Linked DNA regions of Homo sapiens: region 1 is linked to region 2. The links come from fine-mapping of genetic effects on gene expression. Tissue or cell type: lymphoblastoid cells. Region 2 holds a variant in brackets; the other region holds the start of a gene. All regions are shown on one strand. Distances are from middle to middle. Region 1 holds the start of OR2AE1 (olfactory receptor family 2 subfamily AE member 1). Region 2 overlaps ZSCAN25 (zinc finger and SCAN domain containing 25).

The links. PIP is the estimated chance that this variant, and not a neighbour inherited with it, causes the effect. A credible set is the group of variants that fine-mapping cannot tell apart.
Region 1: it holds the start of OR2AE1, and the variant in region 2 is the best candidate, but not a certain one, in a credible set for the expression of OR2AE1 in lymphoblastoid cells (GENCORD, PIP 0.55).

Annotation. Positions count from the first base shown.
Region 1 is chr7:99,873,835-99,879,216 of GRCh38, reverse strand. OR2AE1 (olfactory receptor family 2 subfamily AE member 1) reads left to right here and starts at 2,184. Exons shown (of 1, transcript NM_001005276.1): 1 at 2,184-3,155. The coding sequence starts at 2,184. The coding sequence ends at 3,155.
Region 2 is chr7:99,623,505-99,628,886 of GRCh38, reverse strand. It overlaps ZSCAN25 (zinc finger and SCAN domain containing 25), which reads right to left. Exons shown (of 8, transcript NM_145115.3): 7 at 4,707-4,830. Among named protein-coding and RNA genes, the nearest start is that of ZSCAN25, 9.2 kb to the right of the region's middle. The variant A/T (reference allele first, on the strand shown) is at 3,335.

The sequences.
Region 1 (5,382 bases), 250 kb before region 2:
TGACTCTTTGCCTGGTGGGGTAACCCAAACCTTTATTCCTGAAGCATCTGGGCCACTAGCAGTCTTGTCTGAATTGGGTTGTAGTTTTCTATTGGCTTACATCATGAGACATGAGAGTACACCCTAGAAAATCTGACTGCAGACATAATTCTCCATATCCTCACTGTATAGTAGTGACTGAATTTCCCATTGCTAGTCAGAATCAGTCTTACTAGCCAATAGAGTAACCTTATTTGCCTATTGATTCAGTTCTATGAGGAGCCCCAAGTGGCATGGTGGCAGTCTTAACTATCAGAAAATGGGATTATTGTTGTGACACCTGGTAGAAGAATTTCTCCCTTTGGAACTAAGACCTCTAAAACAGCAAAAGCTAAAAGTGAAGGGATAGAAAACTAAAATTGTGCTGGTGGGTCACAGTTATGGGGGCTATAGTGAGAGGACTCATTCTCTCTTCTACCTGGTGATTTCTGGTTCCATGAATCTTGCTATGGGAGGAAGAGCAGCATAAATTGGATGCAGATTTAGAGTATATTTCACATCCTAGAGGACACTGCCCCAGCACCAAAACGTGTTGCCAACCAGATGGTCTTCAAAAGGCCTTCCCTTGGATTCTCCTTTAGTTTTTCTGACTTCTGGGTCAGGTGTGTGCATTCTTTTTTTTTTTTATTTTTTTTTTTTTATTTTTTTTTTTAAGACGGAGTCTCGCTCTGTTGCCCAGGCTGGAGTGCAGTGATGCGATCTCCACTCACTGCAAGCTCCGCTTCCTGGGTTCACACCATTCTCTTGCCTCAGCCTCCCGAGTAGCTGGGACTACAGGCGCCCGCCACCACGCCCGGCAAATTTTTTGTATTTTTAGTAGAGACGGGGTTTCACCGTGTTAGCCAGGATGGTCTCCATCTCCTGACCTCGTGATCCACCTGCCTCGGCCTCCCAAAGTGCTGGGATTACAGGCGTGAGCCGCCGCGCCCGGCCAGGTGTGTGCATTTTTAATCTGGCCATTAAGAAGCGCCCCAGCGGCCGGGTGCGGTGGTTCACGCCTGTAATCCCAGCACTTTGGGAGGCCGAGGCGGGGGGATCACGAGGTCAGGAGATGGAGACCATCCTGTCGAACACGGTGAAATCCCCGTCTCTACTAAAAATACAAAAAATTAGCCGGGTGTGGTGGCAGGCGCCTGTAGTCCCAGCTACTACGGAGGCTGAGGCAAGAGAATGGCATGAACCCGGGAGGCGGAGCTTGCAGTGAGACGAGATCGGGCCACAGCATTCCAGCCTGGGCGACAGAGCAAGACTCCAACTCAAAAAAAAAAAAAAAAAAAAAAAGAGGCGCCCCAGCTTCTGCAGGATATCCACACCGCCAATTTCAGAGACAACAAGAACTGACATGGGTTTCAGTCTGCCTTTGTGGGATTGCAGCTCATGCTTGTGGGTTCCAGCATGACTTTGATCTGCCACTCTTTATATCCATTTTTTTTTTCCTGACTACTTGCCCTCTGGAATTAAAGTTCCAGCATCAGACACAAAGGTAACAGCCACGCATAGATTGCCTAACCAGCTTCCACAATTGTATAAGAGAAATCTCTTAGTGTTATAGCTTTTCTAGTAAAATCCTCACTGATAAAATAAGCAACGCCCCCAAGCTTTTCTCCAAACTGTCTCTCTGTGTGTGTCTGTATAGAGAGAGAGAGCTTAAAAATCTGCCTTCACAAACATGATCACTCTGAAATCTCAGAATATCTAGACTCCATTAAGTATCAAACTTCAAGTCTCTTCTCATTAAGAAAGACAAATGTGTGTGTGTGTGTGTGTGTGTATACATATGTGTGTTTTGGAAGCCTAGGAAGTAAATGGGGAATAAATATATACACACATACATATACATACACACACACACACACACACATATATATCTTTCTTAACGAGAAGAGACTTGAAGTTTGATAATAGAGTCCAGATATTCTGAAATTTCAGAGTGATTATGTTTGTGAAGGCAGATTTCTAAGCTCTCTTTTAAAAAAAGGTTATTTGAATAATTAGAGAGGTTGAATAATTAGAAACGGAAATTTTTTTCACAGGTTCTGTCCTCTATCAAAAGGTGCTTTTCCTTGGGTATACTGGACCCCAGTATTTCCAGTCACACTCTTTATCTCCACTCTCTGTTTCCTCAGGGATTGAGAAAGGGGACAATGTGGCAGAAGAATCAGACCTCTCTGGCAGACTTCATCCTTGAGGGGCTCTTCGATGACTCCCTTACCCACCTTTTCCTTTTCTCCTTGACCATGGTGGTCTTCCTTATTGCGGTGAGTGGCAACACCCTCACCATTCTCCTCATCTGCATTGATCCCCAGCTTCATACACCAATGTATTTCCTGCTCAGCCAGCTCTCCCTCATGGATCTGATGCATGTCTCCACAATCATCCTGAAGATGGCTACCAACTACCTATCTGGCAAGAAATCTATCTCCTTTGTGGGCTGTGCAACCCAGCACTTCCTCTATTTGTGTCTAGGTGGTGCTGAATGTTTTCTCTTAGCTGTCATGTCCTATGACCGCTATGTTGCCATCTGTCATCCACTGCGCTATGCTGTGCTCATGAACAAGAAGGTGGGACTGATGATGGCTGTCATGTCATGGTTGGGGGCATCCGTGAACTCCCTAATTCACATGGCGATCTTGATGCACTTCCCTTTCTGTGGGCCTCGGAAAGTCTACCACTTCTACTGTGAGTTCCCAGCTGTTGTGAAGTTGGTATGTGGCGACATCACTGTGTATGAGACCACAGTGTACATCAGCAGCATTCTCCTCCTCCTCCCCATCTTCCTGATTTCTACATCCTATGTCTTCATCCTTCAAAGTGTCATTCAGATGCGCTCATCTGGGAGCAAGAGAAATGCCTTTGCCACTTGTGGCTCCCACCTCACGGTGGTTTCTCTTTGGTTTGGTGCCTGCATCTTCTCCTACATGAGACCCAGGTCCCAGTGCACTCTATTGCAGAACAAAGTTGGTTCTGTGTTCTACAGCATCATTACGCCCACATTGAATTCTCTGATTTATACTCTCCGGAATAAAGATGTAGCTAAGGCTCTGAGAAGAGTGCTGAGGAGAGATGTTATCACCCAGTGCATTCAACGACTGCAATTGTGGTTGCCCCGAGTGTAGAGTGGAATAGGATAAGCTCCTTAAATTAATTCATATAAACCTCTAAAGTTTTTCAGGGAGATAGCTTCCTTATGCTGTTTTACTACTGGAAGAAAAACACATTTAACACACAATTCCAGTATTCCAGCTTGGTGTCAGGTATCCAAGCACTGTGGAGAACATTTGAGTAGATCTTTAGAGAATTAGGGAAAACTTTTTAAAAAGTCCCTTTGAAAGAAGACATATAAAGGTCACTGACACCCTGAAAAAAAGAAGGCAAGATAAAGATATAAGGGCCCTTATCTATTATTATTTTTATTAACAAAAATATATAAAACATGCCACCAGAGAGTATTTATGGAGTTTAAAATTGGAGTGTGTTGCTTACTTTTGGAAGCATGGGAAGTAAATGGTGAATGATGGCTGTTTGAAAGGGAGGATGCATGATATAAAAGTTGTATTCTTTTTTTTTTTTGTGACGGAGTCTCTCTCTGTCACCTAGGCTGGAGTGCAGTGGCACGATCTTGGCTCACTGCAACCTCCGCCTCCCAGGTTCAAGTGATTCTCCTGCCTCAGCCAGGAGTAGCTGAGTATTACAGAGTAGCTGGGATTACAGGCGCGTGCCACCATGCCTGGCTAATTTTTGTATTTTTAGTAGAGACGGGGTTTCACCATGTTGGTCAGGCTGGTCTTCAACCCCTGACCTCAGGTGATCTGCCCACCTTGGCCTCCCAAAGTTCTGAGATTACAGACGTGAGCTACTGCACCTGGCCCTAAAAGTTATATTCTTAGACCCTTAGTGTTCCATGAATCACAGTGTGTAAGAATTCATAAGGGAAAGAATAATACATTTTGTATACATACATAATAATATATAACATAATTCTTGTAATCCATGTTGTGTTTAACAAATCTTTGTTGAGTGCCTAGTATGATCCAGGTGGTAGACTAGATGTTTGGAATTGCATTGTGAAACTTAAGATTTTTTACACATCTGCTTGTGCTTTTCCTTGGTCTACGTTGGACTTGCCATAGCAGGTAGGCATATTAACTTTTATTATTTCACAGGCTGAAAATACCTTTCTGTTCTTTGAGGGTTCCTAGCCTTGTGATTTGGAATCAGAATGATCTGGAGGAGAGTCTGCCACTTGATAACAGTGGTAAGTTACTTAACCTCTCAAGGCCTCAGTAATCTTATGTGTTTAATGAAAAAAAAAATAGGGTGACCTGAGATTTTGTGTTAGTTATGGGTATTGGTTCCAAGCAACAGAAATGGACTCTGAATGAAACAAGCAGAAAAAAGCCTTATTGAAGGCATGATGGGAAGATGTCAGAATCAGTGGGAGCACTAAAGAACCAGATTTGGAGACTATTACTCACATATCCATTTACTGCCAAATTGTCCACAGAATAAGTCCAAGAAGAGGCCAGTAGTAGAATTCATCCAATGGAGACAAGATTATTTGGGTTTAGCAATATGGGGGAGGACTAACACAGGTCATCATAACCATCTGATCTGCAAGGATCTCTTATAATCTTGCTCTTGAAATTATTCTTCTCTCTTCTGCGTTATAAATTTTCCCAGTCTACTTGATCAGTACCTCAGCCTACAGACATACCTTTATGATTGTCATCTTAAAAAGAAACTTCTCCTCAATCCCGGAAAGTCTAAACCAAGCTCATTCAACCCATGTACTGCAGACCATATGTGGCCTGGGAAGGCTTTGAATGTGGCCCAACACAAATTCATAAACTTTCTTAAAACATTTTCATCATCACTGGCCATCAGAGAAATGCAAATCAAAACCACATTGAGATACCATCTCACACCAGTTAGAATGGCGATCATTAAAAAGTCAGGAAACCACAGGTGCTGGAGAGGATGTGGAGAAATAGGAATACTTTTATGCTGTTGGTGGGACTGTAAACTAGTTCAACCATTGTGGAAGTCAGTGTGGCGATTCCTCAGGGATCTAGAACTAGAAATACCATTTGACCCAGCCATCCCATTACTGGGTATATACCCAAAGGATTATAAATCATGCTGCTGTAAAGACACGTGCACACGTATGTTTATTGCAGCACTATTCACAATAGCAAAGACTTGGAACCAACCCAAATGTCCAACAATGATAGACTGGATTAAGAAAATGTGGCCCATATACACAGAATACAATGCAGCCATAAAAAATGATGAGTTCATGTCCTTTGTAGGGACTTGGATGAAGCTGGAAACCATCATTCTCAG
Region 2 (5,382 bases):
GCCTCTTCAGCACTGTGCACCTAACTAGCACTTTATTATTCTGTACCTATTTACATGTGACTTTGTTGGAAATGCTGTTTCCATTCATCCAGATGTCCTGCGCCTTCCCCAAACGATTCTACACCTGCTGTAGCACAGGGCAGCACACAGCTCTCCAGACCTTCCAGGTGCCTGCTCAGTCCCCTGTCCTGCCCACATGCTCCCTCTGCCTAACCAGGTTCATTCATCTGGGTCTCCTAGGAGCCTGGCAGGGGACTGACTCAGGGAAGATGCTTGCTAACTGCTGGCTGAATGAATGAAGCAGGCTTCACTGAGGCTCCTGCAGGAGAACGCCCCTAGGTAGCATATTTATCAGGACTGAGACCATGACGCTGCTGAAATGCTCAGCTTCACCCTTCCTTCATCCTCACTCTGATCCTTCTTATATTCTCTCTAAATTAACGGAACAGGTGTTTATGGAAGAGTAACAGAAAGGGGAGGAGAAAAAAAGAAAAGAAAAGGTATTGGGGAACAAAGAGGCAAAGAGAAAAAAAGAAAAGGAGAAATAAGTGGTGCTTAAAGCGGAAGAGTCCTTTTAGGCAAGATGACTAGAAGACAAAAAAAACCTGACAGTATATGCCTCCTGGTTTGATAAAATATGAAATACATACTTATCAGCTTGGATTTTGTTTTGTAAACTTTTCATGAAAATAAAAGTGTACAAGCCATTTATGTTTTGTACACGCAAAGATTTTATTTTTATTTTTTTGGATCCAGCGCTGGCTAAAAAATGTCACGTTACCCTTTTTTTCCTTTTTGTGGAGATGGGGGCCTCACTATGTTGCCCAGGCTGGTCTCGAATTCCTGGGCTCAAGTGACCCTCCTGCCTCTGCCTCACTGAGTGCTGGGATTACAGGTGTGCGTCACCACACACTATGCAAAGAATTTTCTTAACGAACCCAACCACGTAAACAGCATTCAGTTCAACAAACAGAACATAACCAGTCCCTAGAAGCCCCTTTTACATCTCCTCCATCACTATACCCTGCATATATATACTATACATATACAGTATATACATATACAGCATATACATGTATACAGTATATACAATATACATATACAGCATATACGAGATATACGTATACAGCATATACGATATACGTATACAGCATATACGAGATATACGTATACAGCATATACGAGATATACGTATACAGCATATACATGATATACGTATATAGTATACATATATACTATACCAACGGGAACACATTGTCTGGACTTTTTTGCCTGTTCTTGAACTTCAGGTAATTGTCTCACACATTGTTTCTGGCTTCTTCTACTCAATATCATGTTTGTGACGTTCACCTATATCATGGTGTGAAGCTGTAGTTTATTCTTTTTCATTGGTATACAGTATTCCACTGAGTATATGTATGTGTGTGTGTGTATGTATATATAGATAGATATACAGATACAGATAGACTGCAACCTACTTATTAATTTGACTGTTGTTCATTTGGGTAGTTTTCAGTTTTGAGGTGTTATGAATAGTAAGATTAAAACTAAATGCAATGCACAAACCACAACTAGATCTTGGGGAAAGCTGACTATGCACTAGATGTTACATATATCGAATTTATGTTTATTTTCTTAGATGAAATTATGCTACTGGGCTATGTTGGGAATGTCATTGTTAGACAAATGCTGAAGTATTTACAAATGAAAGATTGAGATGCCTCCAACTTCCATATCATTCCAAAACAAAACACACATTATACAGCTAAATATGGCAAATGTTAACAATTGGTGAATGTAGATAAAGACCTAAGTGTGTTCCCTGTACTAGTCTTAGCTTTTCTGTATGTTTGAAAATTTGTATAATAAGAGTTCAAAATATAAAGCTGGGGGAAAAATAAATACAATGATACCTAAGTATAAACAGAGACACTGGGAGAAAGACACAGTAGTGGAAGAGAAGGGACCTAGCAGTGAGAAACCCGTTTTGAGTGCTGCACTGGCTGCTCAATTGCTGTGTGATCATGGGAAAATCAATTAACCTCTCTGAGCCTTACATTCACCACCTTCAAAATGGATTGTACACTCATGAAGTTTACTGCACACATGGAGCAGGAATGCAATGGTTCATGATATTATTTTAACTCCCAGACCATGTACCTGACTTGCAGCTACTTCCAGGGACCATCCACTTAGATCTCAAAGTCAACAAATGGAACTTTCCATTCTTCCTCCCTCTTAGGAAAATGCTTCCCTCTCTTTCTGACAGTAGTAACATAATTTTTCCAGGCCCTTAGCCAGGATCCTAAGACGTAGACTCCTCTCTGACTCTTCTCTTTCCTCCCCTCTGGCCAATCTGTGGCCCATCCTTGGAAGCATATTTCAGTAAACCCCCTTCTACATGACCACTGGCCTGGTTCCTGCTCTTACCCCAGTGCCTACACTATTTCAACCCTCCAGACTGGCCGTACCCTGCCGTCAATCCAATTTTCCTCAAGTAAAACCTCCATCACATTACTCTGCGCAGAAAAAATTTTTAAACAAGGACCCAGAGTCCTCACGGACTCCTCAGCGGCCTCACTCTACTCACTCCTGCCTCCTCCTTACTCCTCTGAGCACTCATCTTTCACTCCAGGACCCTCACCATCCTGGGAACCAGCCTGCAGAGTCCTGCATTCAGGTTTCTGCACCTGCTACTTTTTGCCTCTGTGATTCCAAATCCTGTTGTGAGTTCTTGCTCCAGTCCTTGTGGACATTACTGCAATTACAACCCAGACAACAAGGTCTGCACCTCACCGTCTGCTAATGAGAACAGACGAACAACTGGAAGTGATCTGGGCAGCCACCTAGCTCAACCCTGCCCTGTGCATTCAGTCTCTTTACAGGTGAAGCAGCTCAGGCCCAGCCCCAAGCAGCTGTCAGTACAAGCACCAGGACAACCCGAGTGTGAATCCCAGGAAGACCTGAAAGCTGGGACAGCAAGTGAATGGTACACTTGGGAAACAGGCCTTCGTGTCACCTGGCGGCAGAAATGTTCAGGTATGGGCTTGAGTTGCTCTGAGTTCTGAGACACTGAGCTGGTGAGGGGACAAGGACAGAACCAGTCTCCAGAACAGTCAGAAATGGCCAGGAGAGCATGAAAATCTTCTGAGAATGGGGGCGAGGGGCTCCTCACCCCACACAGCAGCATCACTGGGAGGGGAATATCCCTGAGGGGGACCCTGGCACCAGGACACTGGCACCTTTGTCTGGGGCTCATCACTCGAGCCCCTGCTTTGTTCTGTCATCCTCTGCCGTTACAGCAATCACACATCTCCACATAAAGTATGCTGAC[A/T]TCTTTCTGCCACTTGCATCACTGCCACACTGTGTCAACCGTGCCCTGGACCCAGGTCTCCCAGGAGACCAGTGCCCCTTACCGTATCCCACTATTACATGCACATGGCCTCTTCCCCTGAACTCTAAGACCCCACAGGCAAGCGCCTTTATTTTTAACTCTTCATAGTGACCAGAACAGCAATGGCCACAGAGCCAAGTCCACCTCTGTGGTGAATAAATGAGTGAAGGCTGAGGGCTCCTACAAGAATCCCTTAGTAATACTTACAGCACTAACTAAACAATCTAACACTACCATGGTCACCACACATTTAGATATGTCACCTCCCTTCATCCTCATGGCACCATGAGGACAGGTTCCATGAACAGCCCCATTCCACAACAGAGGAAACTGAGACCTGGAAAGCTCAAGGGAGATGCTCAAGGTCAGGGTCAGCAAGTGGAGGGGCAGGATGGATTCTCTTACGTCCTGAAGGAAGCACAGGGATAATCTTGCTCTTCCTTCAAGGCATTTCAGGATAAGGAAAGGCTAGGTGGGGTCGGTACAGATGGGTGGTCAGTGTACAACTCACAAAGAAGTTATGAAACAAAAAAGAAGAAAATCAAAGAACAAGGACAGGCCGCTCCAGCCACAGTGTTTCCTCTCCCCGCCGGCATCCTGATTCCACGCATGCAGACTCTCCATACTGTCCCTTGCCCTGGCAGCCCCAAAGCCCCGCAGTGCGCTCTGCTGGCAGCCCCTGTGGGCTCTCTCTCGCTGCTCCTCCTCCCATGAGCTGCTGTCACACACAATGGCCGCATCCCCCCAGGCTCTGAGCCCAGGTCAAACCCAGCCACCACCTGAGTCCCAGCGCAGCTCTGCTTCCTCTGTGACTCGGGCCACTCCAACCTCTCCCATCGCGAAGCCCCCTCGTGCCCTCCTACGTGCACACCGTGAGCTCCAACGCTTTCGTGCACGTTAGTCCTGCCCACTTCCTGCCGCAAGAGAAAACCACTAACACAGGGCCCACATGCAGGGAGCACTCAATAAATATCTGAACAAGCTCAGATGCCCCATCTTTTGCTGTTCGTATCTTGTTCTCAAGCCCTCAGTGTCTTTAATCATGGACACAATGTAGGTGTTTGGGGGTCCTCATGACCGACCTGTCTCCATACAGCCAGAATAATGGCCTCATGTTTTCCTGCTCCATCATTTGGCTCCTCTATTGACACAGGAAAGCAGCTCCTCGTGCCCCATGGTCCGTGCTGGACCCATTTACCCGCCTGCCATGAAGTCCCCTTCCTTTGCCAGGAGCGCCAGAGCTACGGCAGGACCCCTGACCTGAGCTTTCAGAACTCCCCAGTTCCTCACCTGTGGGTGGAGACAGTCTTACCTGGAGAGACCCTGCAGTCCTGCGGTTCCACATACTCCCCAAAGCAGTCTATCTGGGCTGGGGTCACATGCCTCCACTCCTCCTCAGGGAAGGCCAGGGCCATATCTTTAAATGGCCCCAACCCCTGCAACAATAGGAGATTGCTATGAATAAAGAAAGAATCCTAGGCCAGAGACAGTGGCTCATGTCTGTAATCCAACTTCCTCCCAACCAGCTTCCTCCCAACAGTTGAATGGGAGTAATCCACTTGTTTGAGCCACTGCAGTTGTGAGCCTCTGTGGCTGGGGCTCAGCTTGCCCCTAACAACTAAGTCACCTCATTTCCACTCTGCAGCAGCCTCCCACTCACACCTCATGCTTGACAGAGCCTGGCAGCCGCTATTTACCTTCTCATCAAGAACAAAGTTCACATTCGGCCAAGCCCTGTCTTAAGAACAAGGCTGTGATAAAATAAATGCATCCTCAATTTCTCACTCACTGCACCACGAAGAACTATTATGGTACAAGGGAGGATCCAACCAAATTAAAAAGCACTGATGTCATTCCTCATCCCCTCCAAAGTACATCCTTGGAGAACAGGAAAAGGGAAATGATGCTGGCATCCAGCCTTGCCCAAATACGGCTTGAGCAGGACCAGACTTGATCCCCTTCTTTTTTCTGCCAAACACCTTTTCTTC